Linked DNA regions of Homo sapiens: region 1 is linked to region 2. The links come from fine-mapping of genetic effects on gene expression. A gene starts in region 2. The other region holds a variant in brackets. All regions are shown on one strand. Distances are between the middles of the regions. Region 1 overlaps EXD3 (exonuclease 3'-5' domain containing 3). Region 2 holds the start of NSMF (NMDA receptor synaptonuclear signaling and neuronal migration factor).

The links. PIP is the estimated chance that this variant, and not a neighbour inherited with it, causes the effect.
Region 1: its variant is the best candidate, but not a certain one, in a credible set for the expression of NSMF in whole blood (TOPMed, PIP 0.76).

Annotation. Positions count from the first base shown.
Region 1 is chr9:137,392,462-137,397,862 of GRCh38, reverse strand. It overlaps EXD3 (exonuclease 3'-5' domain containing 3), which reads left to right. Exons shown (of 22, transcript NM_017820.5): 2 at 2,459-2,560. The coding sequence starts at 2,506. Among named protein-coding and RNA genes, the nearest start is that of EXD3, 28 kb to the left of the region's middle. The variant T/G (reference allele first, on the strand shown) is at 2,619.
Region 2 is chr9:137,456,091-137,461,402 of GRCh38, reverse strand. NSMF (NMDA receptor synaptonuclear signaling and neuronal migration factor) reads left to right here and starts at 2,069. Exons shown (of 16, transcript NM_001130969.3): 1 at 2,069-2,371; 2 at 2,854-2,915; 3 at 3,502-3,996; 4 at 4,917-4,992. The coding sequence starts at 2,301. It overlaps PNPLA7 (patatin like domain 7, lysophospholipase), which reads left to right. Exons shown (of 35, transcript NM_001098537.3): 34 at 666-769; 35 at 927-1,451. The coding sequence ends at 1,010. RefSeq lists enhancers at 1-364, 3,188-3,885 and silencers at 1,839-2,188, 2,279-2,548.

The DNA of each region.
Region 1 (5,401 bases), 64 kb after region 2:
CCAGCGACTCTTCTGCCTCCGCTTGCTGAGTAGCTGGAACCAAAGGCGTGAGCCACCACACCCGGCTACTTTTTAATTTTTTTGTACAGTTTGACCATGTTGCCTAGGATGGTCTCAAACTCCTGGGCTCAAGTGATCCTCCCGCCTCAGCCTCCCACACTGCACTCGGCCTCCTTGAACTGTTTGAACATGTTTTCTGTTCATTCTGTGAACGCAGTTGAAATCGTTGTGTTAAAGTCTTTGCTAACACCAATAACTTTGAGGCCTTCCTCGAAGTTGCTTTCTGTTCTCTGTTTTTTGTGTTTTTCCACTTGTTTATGGGTCATATTTCCTTGTTTCTTTTTAGGTCTTGTGATTTTTATTACGTGCTGAGTTTCGTGAATTATCCATTGTGGAAACTCTGGATTTAGGTATCATCCTCTGAAGAGCATTGTTTTTCGCTCCGGTGGGCTGTTCAGCTTCTGGCTGAGTCCCTTGAACTTGGGGTTGTGTCTTGATGTTTTGTCAGGGGCTCTTCGGAGAGCCTAGGGCCTTTCTCAAGCCTCCTAAGCTGGGTGGGACTCAACCTTCTCCAGCTTTCACGGGCTTGGTCTGGATCTGTCCTCCGGCTTTCGTGGGCTTGGTCTGGATCTGGCGAGAGGCTCTGGAGCAGGCCTTCCTCTCAGCATGGTCTTCGGCTGTGGCCGTCTGGTCCTGGTTGTGTGTTGATGGGGTCCTTCCTCTTGGCTGGCCTGGACTGCAGTGTGTCAGGCGCTGTGTGGCCTCTGGTGTCTCCACTGTATTCTCAGCCCTGGGGCCGCGGGTCCTGGGAGGCTCGGGGGTCCTCCTGCCCACACACTCACTGCCCCAGCAGCCCCTCCTGCAGGTGTGTGTCCCCCAGTGGCCCCCTCGGCATGGTGGGACACTGTGCCCAGCCCAGGCTCCAGCGTGGGGAGCAGCTGTCCTGGGGCTGCCTTGGGCACTGACTGCTGTCGGGAAACGTGGCCTCACACTGCCTGTTGCCCAGAAACTGGTTTCCTAAGATATATCATCCAGTTTTACGTCGTTTGCAGTGGGAGAGCCACAGTCCCTCCCCGACGGTGGAGCAGGAGTCTGGAGCAGCCTGCGTGAGAAAGGAAAAGGCATCCTAACCTCCATGTGACGCGGCTGGGAACGGCCTCTGTCCGTCCTGAGTCCACAGACGATGTCCACGTAACTTTTTTCAGGAGGTTGTGTTGTTGTGTGTTTAGGGGTGCGTGTTGGCCGACAGGTGAGACAGATTCTTACCCTGCCTGGGCGGAGCTGTCAGTAATGTGTAAAACTGAAGGCCTCTAAGTGACTGTGCCGCGTGTGGCTGAGAAACACACACAGGTCCGTCTCCCCGGGAATGGCCACCGTGAGGGCTGCCTGGGGGAGGGCGGCACAGCTCTCTCCTGCACGCCTGTGTTAGGATTCGGAGTTCACATGCTGAGCTTTGTGTAACTGCTGTGTGTGATTCAAACTAAAGCTATGCACTCAGAGAAAGCCTTTTTATGCAGCCTTGCGTAAGCAGACTGAAGGAGAAGGGTGACCCTCGTAAGTGTAGATAAGGGTTTTGCATCAAAAACACTCCCAGGGGCCAGGCGCGGTGGCTCACGCCTGTAGTCCCAGCACTTTGGGAGGCTGAGGCGGGTGGATCACCTGAGGTCAGGAGTTCGATACCAGCCTGACCAACATGGGGAAACCCCATCTCCACTAAAAATACAAAAATTAGCCAGGCGTGATGGCGCATGCCTGTCATCCCAGCTACTCGGGAGGCTGAGGCAGGAGAATCGCTTGAACCCGGAAGGCGGAGGTTGCAGTGAGCTGAGATGGCCCCACTGCACTCCAGCCTGGGCATTGCAGAGAGACTCTGTCTCCAAAAAAAAAAAAAAGAAAGAAAGAAAGAAAAGAAAAAAAAACACTCTGAGGGAGACTGAGGTCTGCCTGGGATGAGAGCTGTCAGCGGCCGCCTGGAGTCTTACGGAGCTGCGTACTGGGTCAGCCGTGAGGGCGTCACTCCGAGGTCCCTGGTCCTGCAGGCGCCCTTGCCCTCTGGAGGAGAGCACCTCTCTCCCATGTGGCTCCCTCAGGGCAGGACACACAGCCTGAGGGGGACATGGCAAGGGGGGTCACGCTGTCCTCAAGAACAGGCCCCTCTGCACTCCCGCGAGGGTCTGTCTACTGTGCCCCCCCCCAGGGCCCCTCCCACCCCCTGCCCTCCCTGCTGAAAGCTGGGACGGTTTGGCAGGGAACTGGAATGCAGGGTCCAAACTTGGCAGCCGTCACCCCAGCTGGGAGAGGAGTGTGGAGCTGCCCGCTATGCTCAGCGACTGGGGGTCCCACTTGGGCCCCCCCAGGCACCAGCTCCCTCCACCACCTCCAGGGGCTGTGGGCGTGGGCTCTGCATGGCTGCCTGTTGCAGTGGGCTCTGCATTCACCTGATTGTCTGTTTCTGCAGATCCTCGTTCCTAGCTGCCTGCCAGCGTCCTCGGCCCGGCCCTGAGGATGGACCCAGGAGATCCCGCTGGTGACCCTGCCGCTGGCGAGCGCCACCGCATGGGTGAGTCTGAGCCTGATGGTGCCGAGTCTCCCTGGGGCTGTGGGGGGAGGTGCGTGGG[T/G]GTGCATGGGGGGTGGTGGCGCCCACTGTGTACTCAGTGACGAGGGCCAGGCTGCTGGCCCCTAGCTGCGGGCCTCTCTACAGTGTCCACGGCTTGGGACCTTGTGAGTCCGGAGGCCCCACTGTGGCCTTGTTGTCCTCGGGGGTCAGGACAGGCCGCCTCCTTGGGCCCCAGCGTGGGTGGCCTGGCGCCGGGCCTGTGACAGGATCCGGGGGAGGTGGCGGGGACAGTGCAGCTGCTCAGGGCTGGCCGCAGAGGTGGGAGCTCTGGTCCCCTCTGTCCCTCGGGGAGCCAGGCGGAGGGCCCGGAACACCCTTGGGGGCTTAGCGCCGCCACTGGGGGCTCAGGGAACCCACAGCCTCTTGGGTCTCGGGCGGTTCCAGGGTGGCCTCCAGGGTCCCTAGTTTTTTAAACTGAGGCATTTTTCATCCCTTCGAGTTAAGAAGAACATCTGCCCTCCCAGCAGCTTTTTCAGGTTAAAAAAGAGAAATGAGAGGCACCTTCCCTGTGGGCAAAGCCGGGGAGGCCGCATCCCCGCTCGCTCGGCTGCCCTGCCAGATTCAGTGCTGAGGATAAACAGCCCGAGGGGAGGTGCAGCCTCTCTCCCTCCTGTTCCTACAGATCGAGACCCTGCAAGCTGAAGACTGGGCCAGGGTTAGGGAAGCGGAGGCTGGAAGGCCGGGATTAGGGAAGCGGAGGCTGGGAGGCCGGGGTTAGGGAAGCGGAGGCTGGGAGGCCGGGGTTAGGGAAGCGGAGGCTGGGAGGCCGGGGTTAGGGAAGCGGAGGCTGGGAGGCCGGGCTTAGGGAAGCGGAGGCTGGGAGGCCGGGGTTAGGGAAGCGGAGGCTGGGAGGCCGGGGTTAGGGAAGCGGAGGCTGGGAGGCCGGGGTTAGGGAAGCGGAGGCTGGGAGGCCGGGGTTAGGGAAGCGGAGGCTGGGAGGCCGGGGTTAGGGAAGCGGAGGCTGGGAGGCCGGGGTTAGGGAAGCGGAGGCTGGGAGGCCGGGGTTAGGGAAGCGGAGGCTGGGAGGCCGGGGTTAGGGAAGCGGAGGCTGGGAGGCTGGGGTTAGGGAAGCAGAGGCTGGGAGGCCAGGGTTAGGGAAATGGAGGCTGGGAGGCTGGGGTTAGGGAAGCGGCGGCTGGGAAGGAGTGGAGCTGCCTAGTGCCAGAGGGGTCAGCCCGAGCCTCAGCTGCTCTCTGTGCCGGGGACGGGCTGGGGCGGGAAGCCTCCTGGCAGGGGCTCGGCCCCAGTGGGAGCTGTCCGGGGCCATGGCTTTGTGGGCAGAGGGTGAGAAGGGGGTGCCGGGGCCCCTTCACATCCTTCACCCTGCAGTCCTTGTAAACAGCAGTGAGAGCTGTAAGGCCCTGGCCCAGCCGCCTCGCCCTGGGCTGCAGGCCCTCAGTTTGTTGTGGGTTTACTGCCTTTTCACTCACCGCCCCCTGGCCTTTGCCCAGTTCCACCCTACACATGCCCTGCCTGGCAGCCCCTCCATGGGGCAGGGCCATGGCCCTCCCCTCTGTGAAAGCCCTGCTCCCACATGGCAGCAGCTGAGGCTCTCTGCCTCAGTTTCCCTATCCCACGCAGTTGCCTCCTCGGGCCTTGGACCCCTCCAGGGGCTTCCTCTCTGCCTTCCTCTTCTGTGTCCCAGTGGGTGCTGAGGGCTGTGGGGGCACCTCCGGGCATGTCGCCTTCCCTGATGTAGCCAGGTCAGCGTGTGCTCGGGGAGGGGCCACCTCTGAGCTGGGCGGGGCTTGGTGTGGATGTGGCCCCCTCAGCAGGCACAACCCTGGCTGTCCTGTGGGGCCCTGACCACACACCTGCCCCTCTGGGGATGGGCCCAGACCCCCTCACCCTTCCGTTCATCCACCGCCTCCTCTGAGGCCATCTGCGGGCCCCGGGCCTGCACCTGTGTGGGATGAGGCCCTGTTACCTCCCCTGGAGACCGCCGTCAGGGCCGGGGAGCGCATGGGACCCTGGGTTCGCCTCAGCACAGAGCTGACTCTCCCTGCACAGGCACCCACAGGCTTCTACAGCCTCTTCTCCACCTAAGCAGAGTGGGATGTTTTCAAAGTGCAACACCCCAGCTAGCAGGGCCCCTGGAACAGCCTCGGCGCCCCCTGGAACACTAATGGCCCTCCCTGGAACAGACACGGCACCCCCACCGAGAACAGCCTCGGTGCCCCCTGGAACAGCCTCAGCACCCCCTGGAACACTAATGGCCCTCCCTGGAACAGACACGGCACCCCCACCGAGAACAGCCTCGGTGCCCCCTGGAACAGCCTCAGCACCCCCTGGAACACTAATGGCCCTCCCTGGAACAGATACGGCCCCCCGCCAGAACAGACATGGTGCCCGCTGGAACACTAATGGTCCTCCCTGGAACAGCCTCGGTGCCCCCTGGAACACTAATGGCCCTCCCTGGAACAGACACGGCGCCCCCCCACAGAACAGCCTCGATGCCCCCTGGAACAGCCTCGGTGCCCCCTGGAACAGCCTCGGTGCCCCCTGGAACAGCCTGGTGCTCCTGGAACAGACACAGCCCCCCCAGAACAGACACAGCACCCCCTGGAACAGCCTGGCGCTTCCTGGAATGGCCACATCCCCCCATCCTTTCTGTGCTGCTTTAGGCATCTGCCCTTACATGGTTCGTGTCCAGCTCTGTCAACAAGGCCAGCTCCACAAGAGGCCCCAGCTCAGCCCTCCCCAGTGGGCTCCCCTACTCAGGCTCTGGGTCAGCTTCTTCCCAGGAGGTGTCCTGGCCCCTGTGCTGGCCCCGCCTCGCTGCCT
Region 2 (5,312 bases):
GGGTGCTTGGTGGCACTCCTCCGTCCCGGGCACCACGTGTTCCCACAGCAGTGGGACTGTGACCACCCCGGGTCACCCAGCCCCTGCCCTTCATTCACCTCAACTCCCAGCCACACCTCAGGCCTGAAGTAGAACCACGTTTTGCCTCCCACCCCACCCAGTGGGAAATGGGAATGAAGGCTGCTTGTTGGAGGGGCCGCAGGACAAGAAGGGCGGGTCCACTACCCTCCATGCTCCATCCAGGGCCCTGCGCTTGGGCCTTCAGCCAGTGGCCTCCTCACAGCAGAACTGGACATTCTCCTGGGAGACGTCTTCATGGCTGCCGCAGGCCGAGAGGGCCCTGGGCAAGGCAGCCCCTATCCACAGTTGCCAGGTCTGGGGTGCTGGAGCCCTCAGGGTGCTTGGCTGACAAGGGGAGGAGTGTCTGCCCGCTCCTTGTCCTTGTGGAAGACCCACGAAGTGATGTGCTGGGGCAAAGCTGGAGCCAGACAGAACCAGGGGTGGTGTGCAGGGCTGCCCTGGGACCAGGTGGCTGCGTGTAGGGCCCCGGGCCACCTTGGAGGCGGGGGTGGGCATCTGTGGCCGGTTCTGCCTCTGAGTGTGGCTATGCTGGGTACGGTCCCTTCCTTGGGAGGGGACTGACGCAGCCCTACCCTCGGTGCCAGACGAATCTGACTACCAGACGGAGTACGAGGAGGAGCTGCTGGACGTCCCCAGGGATGCATACGCAGACTTCCAGAGCACCTCAGCCCAGCAGGGCTCAGACTTGGTGAGGAGCTGGGCATGGTCCCACCTGGTGCCCACAGCTGAGCCTTGGTGCCTGGCCCTGTGCCGGCCACTCCCTCCCTGTGGTCCCACCGGGTTACCAGCGCTGCAGAGCCCCTGCCCTGCCTGGTCCTCACCTGGAACATGCGGTCTGCTTGCAGGAGGACGAGTCCTCACTGCGGCATCGACACCCCAGTCTGGCTTTCCCAAAACTGTCTGAGGGCTCCTCTGACCAGGACGGGTAGAGGCCTCTGCTAAAGAGCCCGGATGCAGCGTCTTCCGTGGGACTGTCCCCAAGGCTGAGGCTCCTGCCAAGTCCTAGGGGCCTCTGTACCTGCCCTGCTGGAAGCCCTGACTTCCCCGGGGCCCCAGGCTGTGTTAGGGTTCTCTGGGCCTCTTCTTTGTACCAGCAGCCCTGCATACAGGGCCCTGTGAGCCCCCCTGCAGTCCTGTGAGGCCCCTGAAGCTCTGTGAGGCCCCTGAAGCTCTGTGAACCCCCTGCAGCCCTGTGAGGCCCCCCGAAGCCCTGTGAGGCCCCCCGAAGCCCTGTGAACCACCTGCTGCCCTGTGAGGCCCCCAAAGCCCTGTGAACTGCCTGCTGTCCTGTGAACTGCCTGCTGCCCTGTGAGGTGTGGGAGCCCTGATGCTGCCGTGTGATGTTTCAATAAAGGTGGATCTCACTGTTGGACGTGTCTCCCGGGCCGAGGTCCCTGTGGCAAAGAAACACTACTGGTTCTCCCTGATGCGGGTGGTCCCTGAGGCTGGGCAGTCCCCAGTCCTCCTCAAAGGACCCCACTGCTGGGGCCTGAGAGCCCTAGGGCGGCAAATGCAGGCCAGGCAGGTAGGGCGTCCAGAGTCTGCATAGAGCTGTGGCCCCCCAGGACCAGGACGGGCCCCTCTGTCTCTCTCTGGCCTCGTGCAAACTGGGTGCCCCCTAAACTGGCTTCCCCTTCGGTTTCCAGTTCCCAAACTGCACAGGGAGCCCTTTTGTGTAAGGGGAGGGAGAACCGGCCTCCCTGTGATCCTGCAGGTCTGAGCAGCAGATCGTGAGGGCCGAGGGCCCAGGACTTTGCGACCAGGGGGCCGCTGGCCTCAGTTTCCCCGCTCTGGAGGCCTGGACGAGAGGGCGCGGAGCCAGGCCGCCCGGCCCCGCCCCCAACTCAACCCGGGCCCGGACGTCACGGTGGGCGGGGCCACATGTCCTCTCCGAGCTCTCCGGGGCCCTGACGTCACGGTAGGTGGGGCCGACCGCCCCTCTGGGCCCGCCCGGGCCCTGACGTCACGATGGGCGGGGCCGGCCCTCGGTTCGGGCAGCGCTCTCCCGGGAGCGGCGGCACGCGCGGAGCGCCGGGTGCGGCCATGCGGGGACCGGGCCCGACCCCGAGCCCGACCCCGAGCCCAAGCCCGAGCCGGAGCCCGAGCGAGACCCCGAGCCCGAGCCCGAGCGCGACCCCCGGTGCGGCGCGGCTACCCCGGCGGAGGCGGCGGGCGCGGGGCGCGCTCTGAGGCCCGGGGGATGCGCCGCCGCCTCGACCATGGGCGCCGCCGCCTCCAGGAGGAGGGCGCTGAGGAGCGAGGCCATGTCCTCGGTGGCGGCCAAAGTGCGGTGAGTGCGGCGGGGCCGCCTTCCCGCACCCCGCCCTGGACCTCCGACCCCGCCCGAGTCCGCCCCTGCCCCGCGGTGCTCCCCGGGCTCCCGGGCCCCGGCCTCTGCCACTGAGGCGCCCTCCCCGCGCCCCGCGCCTCCCTCTTCCTGGTCCCCTGCCCTGCTCTTCCCTCCCCTCCCCTCGCGAGCGCGTGGTGGGCGAGCGCACCCCCCAGGTCGGGAGTGGCCTCGGTTCCCCCGGGGAACAGCAGCCGACCGGCCTCGCGACCCCTCTCCACGGTCCGACGGGCAGGGGCCGGGCCTGCAGGCCTGGCCAGGGCGCACCAGGACCAAGGGTGTGTGGGCTCCCGGAGGGGGACGACCCCGACCCTCCTTCCAGACGCCGAGGGCCTGGCTGGGGACCGGACCCCCGGCTCTTGCGCGGCCCGGTGTTTGGGAGGGTCGTGCCGTGGCCTCTGACCGTGCCCTCTGTCCACCCTCAGAGCAGCCCGAGCGTTTGGAGAGTACCTGTCCCAGAGTCACCCTGAGAACCGCAACGGCGCAGGTAGGGGCACGCGAGGCCGTGCCAGGGCCGCCCAGACCCCCCAGCCCAAGGGATGCTGATCCCTGCCTCCGGGGGTGGAGCGTGAGGGGCATTGGTTGCGCGTGGGCCCGGCGCCCTGCCGGCCTGGCTTCCTTACATCCCCTGCCCTCCCTGCCCGAGCCCCAGGAGCAGTTCCCAGCCGCTCGTCACCATGGCACCCACCCCGCCTGGGCCGTTGGCATGGCAACAGGCCTCCTGGCTCCCCCAGGGCTGGCACCACTGCCTCTGGGGGCCAGCTGGTGGGGGGAGGGGGAAGTTGGCACCAGGCAAACGGTGCGATCGCAGGCTGGGGGATGGCCTGCGTGTTCCTACCCGGCAGGACCGCACACAGGTAGCACAGCGTCACCCAGCCCCCACGCACATGCTAGAGCTTCAGGCCCAGATAGGAGTGAGGGGCTCAGAAACACGCCAGTGACTAGGGTTTGGGCAGCCCTAGTCCCCCACAGAGGCCAGGTGCCCACTGGGTGTTCTCTGCCTTCGGCCTGCTATGAAACCGGCAGCGGGGGGCCCACACGCGGCAGGCAGGCTCACTCAGTGTCTCTCCTAGATCACCTGCTGGCTGATGCCTACTCTGGCCACGACGGGTCCCCCGAGATGCAGCCGGCCCCCCAGAACAAGCGCCGCCTGTCCCTCGTCTCCAACGGCTGCTACGAGGGCAGCCTCTCAGAGGAGCCCAGCATTAGGAAGCCCGCAGGCGAGGGCCCTCAGCCTCGAGTGTACACCATCTCTGGGGAGCCTGCCCTGCTGCCCAGCCCTGAGGCGGAGGCCATTGAGCTGGCGGTGGTGAAGGGGCGGCGGCAGCGGCACCCTCACCATCACAGCCAGCCCCTGCGCGCCAGCCCTGGTGGCAGCCGGGAGGACGTCAGCAGGCCCTGCCAGAGCTGGGCGGGCAGCCGCCAGGGCTCCAAGGAGTGCCCCGGATGTGCCCAGCTGGCTCCTGGCCCCACCCCTCGGGCCTTTGGGCTGGACCAGCCACCTCTGCCTGAGACCTCCGGTCGCCGCAAGAAGCTGGAGAGGATGTACAGCGTTGACCGTGTGTCTGGTGAGGGGTTTGTGTCAGGGCATAGACAGGTTTGGGGGTGCATGCCGCTGCCAGGGTCTGACAGCAGCAGCCACTGTGAGGCTTGGAACAGAGAACAGGTGCTCAGGTCACAGCATGCCAGCGGACTCAAGATTAAAACCGGCAGGCTTCTGCTGCGGCCTCCACACCCTATGAGCTGTGAGCTCCCTCAGCTCCTCAGCAAAATCTGCCAGGCCTCACAGTCCGCTTTCGCCCTGCTAGCACCAGGTCAATCAAGGAGTGCTTCCTGGAGGAGGGGGCCTGGGAGGATCTTAAGGGATATGTAGGGAGGAAGCACCGCTTAATCAGGAGACTGGGCTGCCCTCCGAGAGTCCTGGGGAGCTGTTGGGGCCCAGCCAGGCAGTGGGCATCTTTCCCCAGGGTTGTTGAGTTGTGTGGTAGCTTGTCCACCAGGCAGAAAGTCACTCCACTGTCCCCACACTTGGGCATCAGGGAAAGGCTGTGGGGGCCCTCGGAAGGGGACAGCCCTCAGCAAGGTGGTCTCTAGCCTCGGTGAGGGCCTCCAGCTAGAGCATGGGGGCTGCAGAGAAGGCCTCAGAGCCTCTTCTGCCCAAGGGAAACAGACGCATTGTTTTCCTGGGCCTCCTGGAGACAGACTGTGCTTTCAAAGGAATGTTTCTCAAACTTTGGGTGGCCAAAGGGAAAGTTAAGCCAAAAAAATCAAAGCGTCAAGTTACCAAGAGCGTGGTCTTGGTGAGTGAGCAGCAGACATTCGAGCACTGCCCTCTGTGCCCGTGTGGGGATGCCACCCTCCCCCCACCCGCCCTGGCTGCCAGCTTCTGCTGACCCCTGGACCCAGAAGCATCTGCTTCCCAACAGGGAGGGAGAGGCTTCAGGAACCCCTACTTCACCCAGCCACCGCTCCTTTTTGTCTCTCTTAGACGACATCCCTATTCGTACCTGGTTCCCCAAGGAAAATCTTTTCAGCTTCCAGACAGCAACCACAACTATGCAAGCGTGAGTCTTGTGCCCACGACTTGGGGTCAGGGTTGGGTGGTCTCTTTCTGCTGCTCAGGAAACAGCACTTTTTCCCAGTCTCTGGGCCTACCAGGGGGGCTGCTTCTGAACAGACCCACGTGCCTATGCTGTGCCAGGCCTGCCAGGGAGGCCAGGGCTGACTGCTCTTCCCCTCCCATGGCTGGTGCCCAGCCCCCCCCCCCACACACACACAGTCAGGGGACCTGGCCCAGGGCTGCAGCTGATGAGCTCTCAGTGGGGTGTGGGGTGTGGCAGGTTCTCCTGCTCCTATCCACTCTCCTCAGCCTGTGTCTGCCCTC